Linked DNA regions of Homo sapiens. The protein of the gene in region 1 purifies or fractionates together with the protein of each later gene. This does not show direct contact. Each region holds a gene or a part of one and is shown on either strand. Other genes may lie near its edges.

Evidence for each region. The genes of interacting proteins can lie anywhere in the genome.
Region 2: the proteins of RFFL (region 1) and PRKD2 purify together in Homo sapiens (affinity purification with mass spectrometry; 4 studies listed by BioGRID and IntAct, with this or other methods). This does not show direct contact.

The regions. Positions count from the first base shown.
Region 1 is NC_000017.11:35,015,093-35,018,843, reverse strand, and holds part of RFFL (E3 ubiquitin-protein ligase rififylin), read left to right. Parts: intron 1-1,237; coding exon 1,238-1,321; intron 1,322-2,263; coding exon 2,264-2,474; intron 2,475-3,751.
Region 2 is NC_000019.10:46,703,507-46,707,257, reverse strand, and holds part of PRKD2 (serine/threonine-protein kinase D2), read left to right. Parts: intron 1-2,608; coding exon 2,609-2,763; intron 2,764-2,866; coding exon 2,867-3,089; intron 3,090-3,751.

The DNA.
Region 1 (3,751 bases):
TTCCAAGGTAACACTACCTGAGAGACCAGTGAGGATCTACAGTAAGCTAAGAGAAAACGTTGTTGATGAAGACATTGATTTGGATCCATCCCCATACATGTGTACTATGCATTTGATCTTGCCTTGATTTGGCATTTTGTTACTTCTGCTTTTCATTTCCATTGCAGTTGGTTGCCTCTTCTTGATTAGCTCCATATTATGAATCCTAATGTGGGGTGAGTGGCTGGGGTCGGTGGGTGTCTTTGGTTTCCCAGATTGTCCCTTCACTGGCATCCCCAGAATCTGGTGGAAAAGGCCTGTGAGCTCAGACACCTCTTTGCTCTGAGCTCACAGCAGGCCCTTTGCCTGCAGGGAGCAGTGGGCGAAGAGGATCTACTTAAGGGGTTTGTGGCTTAAATGGTGATGGAATTAGGAGGCTAACAGTTCTGCCTACTCTTTGGCCAAACCTCCTAAAAGAGTACTCAGGAGGAACCTTTTGAGAAGTGAGAATTCTAAGCATAATGAAATTCCGTAAGCATAGGCAGTGTTTTATATAGTGTTAGGCTAATAGATTCTTAGATACATTAAAATACTCTTTGACTAGGTCTGGACATAGCACTTAATAATAGTGTGCTCAACATGGGGAGCACATTTCCAGAATGTGAGAGTAGTTACTAGGCAGAAAAGAAAGAGACTAGGGTGGTGATGATCTGGAAACTTTGTCCCATCAGTGTCAGATAAGGAAGCCAGGGAGATTTAGTGTGAAGGAGGGGAAAACATGGTATAAACAGTTTGGGAAAAACAAAAAACAAACAAACAAAAACCCCAGGAGACTATGGTCTGAGGAGCAGAACCAGGGATAGGGATGGCAATTTTGGATCAGTGTCAAGAAAAACCTTGATGCCAGATAGAGAGCAGTCCAGCAGTGGAATGGACACAATGACCTTCCCTTCACCTGTGGTGCTCAAGCTGAGATTAAATTGATGATGAGTTGTGGCTACTGCCATCCTGGTGTGTGCAGAATTAATGCAGTTTTGTTCTAGAGGGCAGCTTTGTCTATTGAAATGTATTTTTGTTGTTTCTCTGCTTGACAAAGTTGGTATGAGAGAGCAGGCTTTTGTAATGATGCTGTAAGAGGCTCCGGATTTCTGGGCATGATGGGAGTACATTCTGGACATTGTGTGAGTTGAAAAGAGGCCCATGCTATGCAGATCTCTGGGACATCTCTAGATGTGATGTTACTTTTCTCTTCCCACAGGCCAATGGCCATGTGTCTCAGGATCAAGAGGAACCCGTCTACCTGGAGAGCGTGGCCAGAGTACCTGCTGAGGATGAGACCCAGGTGGGGCCTCTGCTTGGGTCTGTGTCTTCACCTTTCCTCTTTCACTGGTGTTCTTCGGAACCTCTTAGCAGAGTCGAGTGGAGAGAGAATAAATGTGTGATGATAGTGCTTCCGAAATTATATTTTTGGGGTAGGGTTTAGTGTTAGTGTTCCAGGTTAACTAGTGAAGCGGTCAGTGTATTTATAAGGAGTTGTGAGGTCACAGTGGAGACGGAGAAGCCTCATGGCCCATTGTATTTCCAGTCTCTTGACTTTCTAAGAGCTGCCGGAGGGCAGGCTTGTGGTCCTGCTGTTAAAGTCTTGTTCTTTCCTTGCTTCTAGCACACTGTAGCCATTGTCAAGGGAAGGAGGTCAGACAATTAGCCAGGCAGGGCCAGTCCAGAGCACAGACCAGGGAGCTGTGGCCAAGGTTGTGTATAGAGGAGTACTTGCCAGGGAAATGTGCCTCTTGTGGGCAAGCAGAAGTCTCCAGGGGAGAAGGGCCAGCACCATGCTGGGTTTCATGTGCGGCCATATTTAACCTCTACAGGACCCCTGTGGGGTAGGACTGCTCTCTCCCCTTAATGGAGGGGCAAACGGGCTCAGAGTGGTAAGCAACTTGCTGGATATTATTTAGCATTAACAGCAGAGGAGTCAAGATTCAAAATTAGGGTCATATGACTCAAACCAGCACTCCTTCTACTATACTTCTATCTAGTACTATATCACACTGATTGGTTGGTCTGTGTCTGTTTGCTCCTGAGCACAGAATCGTGGGTCAGGAAGAGATTCTAGTATATTTTGCAATGCAGAGCACCATGCCAGGTACTCATCCTGTCTCTGTTCCTACCCTTCATGAGGTCAGTCACCAAAATTATGATGTGGTGACTGCTTTGGGGTCCTTGGAGAAAGAGCTTGGGGAGGTAAGAGCTGAGCACACTGATCTCATCTTTGTCATTGCAGTCTATTGACTCAGAGGACAGCTTTGTCCCAGGCCGAAGGGCCTCTCTGTCTGACCTGACTGACCTGGAGGACATTGAAGGCCTGACAGTGCGGCAGCTGAAAGAGATCTTGGCTCGCAACTTTGTCAACTACAAGGGCTGCTGTGAGAAGTGGGAGCTGATGGAGAGAGTGACCCGGCTATACAAGGATCAGAAAGGACTCCAGCACCTGGGTGAGGGGCTATCTGCATGGTAGCTTTACAGAGCTCAGGAGTGTTTGCTGTCACTCCAAAGCATGATGGTATTGACCTGACTCAATTTCCACACTTAAGCCATGGAAGGAGACACCTTACATATTTGCACCGTCTAATAATAGCTGTCATTTGTGGTTGAGTGTCAAAACTAGATTAGGCATTGCATGTATGTATTTATTCCTTAGAGCAACCTATGAAATAGACATTATTAGCATCACCCCTTTATCTGAAAGGTAAAATTTAACTGAAAATTTTATGGTCTAAGTCCATAGCCTTTCTCACCATATGCTATCCCCTCCCTACTCACCACCACCTTGTAAGTTTTCTTACCTTAGAATAAGAATGCTTGTTCTGAAGATTTGGGAGGTAGAAAGTGAATCTACATACATGGCAGGAGAAGATAGCTGTTCCATCTGCACTTGGGCTCTTCCTTTTGTTCATTTCCCAGAGCATTTTACACTGTATCATTCAGGAGATGCCCAGGAAAATATCTGGGTCTGTGGTTAAATGAGTTTAGGGAAAAATACCTCATATCTTCATTACTGATTTATGGTAGATTTTTATATTAAAGGCAGAGAAGTCCTGCAGAAGAGAAATGTGTTTTGGCTGTTTTGAACTTAGCATTTCCTGAAATTATTTCACCACAGAATCTTCTCCTTTCCTCCCATCCCCAGTTGATTTGGTTCCTACAGAGCAACATACTGATTCCTTGCTTGGTAAGAGTGGTTGAAGTCAGGTTTCAGGCTCTCTTCTACCAGTAGCTCAAATTCATCAGTGTTAGGGGTCATCTGACTGACTCTTCACCCGATTACAGACTGAGGCCTACTGACATGGAGTCTGTTTTCCCTTTGGGATTGTTTCAAGAGTCTTCTCTCCAGTCGTCAGGACCTGGGGAACAGAACAGATGACTCCACGTGGGAACTTTATCCAGATTCTCTGACTGACTGAAACAGCTAGATAGTTCATTCTTTCTTGACTTTAATGCTGACTTCAAAATAGAAAAGGATATTGCACATATACAGTATCCTTCTACTTGGCAGTTTGTGCAAACTGGTGGAATACCTTTTCCTAAGAGTAGACCAGGCTGGGTGTGTTGGCTTATGCCTGTAATCCCAGCACTCTGGGAGGCTGAGGCAGGTGGATCACTTGAGATCAGGAGTTCAAGACCAGCATAGGCAACATGGTGAAACACCATCTCCACCAAAAACAAAAAATTAGCCGGGAGTGGTGGCATGTGCCTGTAGTCCCCAGGTACT
Region 2 (3,751 bases), on another chromosome or scaffold:
GTATTAGGTCTGAGACAGCATCTCTAGCTCCGTGGGTGCCACGCTTGTACAGAAATCCTGATTCTGGGCCAGGCACGGTGGCTCACACCTGTAATCCCAGCACTTTGGGAGGCCAAGGCGGGCGGATCATGAGGTCAGGAGTTAGAGACCAGCCTGGCCAACATGGTGAAACCCTGTCTCTACTAAAACTAGAAAAATTAGCTGGGTGTGGTGGCGGGTACCTATAATCCCAGCTACTCGGGAGGCTGAGGCAGGAGAATCATTTGAACCTGAGGGGGTGGAGGTTGCAGTGAGCCGAGATCATACCATTGCACTCCAGCCTGGGTGACAGGGTGAGACTCCGTCTCAAAAAAAAAAAAAAAAAAGAAATCCAGTTTCTCCAATATCCTGTGTTCCAGATCATCATGCAGTCCAAAGTATACTTGTATTATTTAAGGACTCTAGGCCTGCAGATACTGATTCAGTGCATTAAAAGCTCTTATAAATATTGCCATCGTCCACACACCATATCCAACTCTTGAGGTCTCAGCATATGCAGTCTTTGTCATGATACAGCCCTGGTGTCATCAAGTCCTAATGGGTTATCAGCACAGACTTCACTGGTGCAGCATCACAGATGATGGTCCCAGTTCCTATGGTGGCAAGAGAACCCCAAATGACTACATTCCGACAGGAGTTTAACTCTATCCTGAGACTCATTCTGAGAGTTATAGATAAGATTCTGAAATTCTGGAAGGCACATGAGTGATTCAAGGCCAACACTGGGAAATGGTTCCTGTGTGCAAAGACCATTTGCCCTGCTGAAGCTCTTCTTGCAGGGCCAACACCGTTCTCCAAGCTTGCCTCCGTGATTACAGCATGCAGCCAAGACAGTGCCTACAATGAGGAGGTGTGGAACTGGAAAGCCTGGAGCAGGCGGGTACCAGAAGGGCTCCCAAAGGCTGGAGGAACATTCTTCACTCCAGAATAGAAAGCGATCCTGGAATCGTTTGGAATCACTGGAGATGTATTAGAGCACACATACAGAACGTCCAGTGGGAAACAGGGAGTTGAGCTGATTTCTCCATGGATGAGGATTTTAAAAGATAAAATAGGCAGGGCACAGTGGCTCATGCCTGTAATCCCAACACTTTGGGAGGCTGAGGTGGGAGGATCACTTGAGCCCAGGAGTTCAAGACCAGCCTGGGCAATGTAGCGAGACCCCATCTCTACAAAAAAATAAAAATAAAAAAATTATCTGGGCATGGTAGTGTATGTCTGTGGTTCTGGCTACTCAGGAGGCTGAGGCAGGAGGATTACTTGAGCCCAGGAGTTGAAGGCTGCAGTGAGCTATGATTGTGCCATTGTGCTTCAGCCGGGGGTACAGGGAGATCCTGTCTCTACAAAATAAAATAAGACAATAAGAAGTCATACTTCTGCCTAGTATGGTACAATGGACCTGAGTACAACTGAGAACTCTTTTTTTTTTTTTGAAACTGAGTCTCGCTGTATTGCCCAGGCTGGAGTGCAGTGGCGTGATCTCAGCTCACTACAACCTCTGCCTCCTGGGTTCAAGTGATTCTCCTGCCTCAGCCTCCGGAGTAGCTGGGATTACAGGCGTGTGCCACTACACCCGGCTAAGTTTTGTATTTTTAGTAGAGATGGGGTTTTGCCATGTTGGCCAGTGTGGTCTCAAACTCCTGACCTCAAGTGATCCGCCGGCCTTGGCCTCCCAAAGTGCTGGGATTACAGGCGTGAGCCACCATGCGTGGCCCACACTACTAAGATTTAATCACACTACTTAGGGATTGCCTGGATTCCAGGTCTACAGAAAAGAGAAAGTGGGGTACAGGGGGTGAGCAGACCTGGAGGGATAGTGACCTTAGGGGTGGGGGTGAGGAGAGGCATTTTCTTTTGGAAAGTTGGGGTTGGGGAAAGAGGGGGAACCAAAGGGGCCTCAGAAAAAGGAAGGTCAGGGTTAGAAGGGGGAACAGGTGTCTCTAGGGAGATGGACAGGAGTTTTGGGGAGGACTAGAAGGAGGTGCTTACCATAGAGGACTGGGGCTGGGTCAGAGCTTTGGCGGGGACTTTTGAGGCATCCATTGTTGCAGTGGGAAAAGGTGGGGTGTGAGGCGCGTTCAGGGCCTGGGGGGCAGATGGGGTGATGTCGGGGCTACAAGCTGGAACTAGGGGTGGAGCTTTGGAGGGAACCTTTGAGGTATCCCTTGTTGGAGTGGGAAAATTTTGGGTGTGAGGCGTGTTCAGGGTCTGGGGGACAGATGGGGTGATGGCAGGGCTACAAGCTGAAACTGGGGACAGAGCTTTGGGGGGAGCCTTTGAGGTGTCCCTTGTTGGAGTGAGAAAAGGGGTGTGGGTGTGTTCAGGGTCTGGGGGACAGATGGGGTGATGGTGGGGCTACAAGCTGGAACTTGGGGCAGAACTCTAAGGAGGGGTGGGCCTGAAGGGGCTGATACACTTACGGATAGTAGTGCCTTTTGGAGGAGATCGTGCTGGCGGGGGGTGATGGGACAGGACCAGGTGAGAGATTGGGTGGAAAGGGCACAACTTCTCAAGAAGAGACCTAGGAGGGGCAGACGCCATGTCTCTTACTCTCTGGCGCCCCCTGCAGGCTGCGGGCTGAACTACCACAAGCGCTGTGCCTTCAGCATCCCCAACAACTGTAGTGGGGCCCGCAAACGGCGCCTGTCATCCACGTCTCTGGCCAGTGGCCACTCGGTGCGCCTCGGCACCTCCGAGTCCCTGCCCTGCACGGCTGAAGAGCTGGTGAGGAGATGGGGGATGGGACGGGTTGGTGGCTAGGGGGGTGACTTGGCCCAGGCATGGGGCCAACGCACTGATGTGTCCCCTCCATTCTTGCCAACGACAGAGCCGTAGCACCACCGAACTCCTGCCTCGCCGTCCCCCGTCATCCTCTTCCTCCTCTTCTGCCTCATCGTATACGGGCCGCCCCATTGAGCTGGACAAGATGCTGCTCTCCAAGGTCAAGGTGCCGCACACCTTCCTCATCCACAGCTATACACGGCCCACCGTTTGCCAGGCTTGCAAGAAACTCCTCAAGGGCCTCTTCCGGCAGGGCCTGCAATGCAAAGGTTAGCTGGGCCTGTCGGGGAGGACAGACAGGGTCAGAACCTCCTTCCCGCCCCAACCTGGTCTTGTGGCAGGACACAAGGATCTGAGCCTTGGGACCCCAGGGCCTCAGAAGGGGAGGGCCCTGAATCCTAGTGTTCTGGGACCTTTGGAATTCTGGAATCTTAGAACCTCAGTTGTGTGTGTGTGTGTGTGTGTGTGTGTGTGTGTGTTGTTGTTGTTTTTTGGAGACAGGGTGTCACTCTATCACCCAGGCTGGAGTGCAGTGGCGCAATCACGGCTCACTGCAGCTTCAACCTCCTGGGTTCAAGTGATCCTCCTGCCTCAGCCTCCCAAGTAGCTAGGACTACAGGTGGTGCCACCACACCCAGCTAATTTTCTTTTCTTTTTTTTTTTTTTGAGACGGAGTCTCACTCTGTCGCCCAGGCTGGAGTGCAGTGGTGTGATCTCGGCTCACTGCAAACTCTGCCTCCTGGGATCAGGACATTCTCCTGCCTCAGCCTCCTGAGTAGCTGGGACTACAGGCGCCCGCCACCATGCCTGGCTAATTTTTTTGTATTTTTAGTAGAGACGGGGTTTCACCATGTTAGCTAGGATGGTCTCGATCTCCTGACCTTGTGATCCACCTGCCTCGACCTCCCAAAATGCCGGGATTACAGGCGTG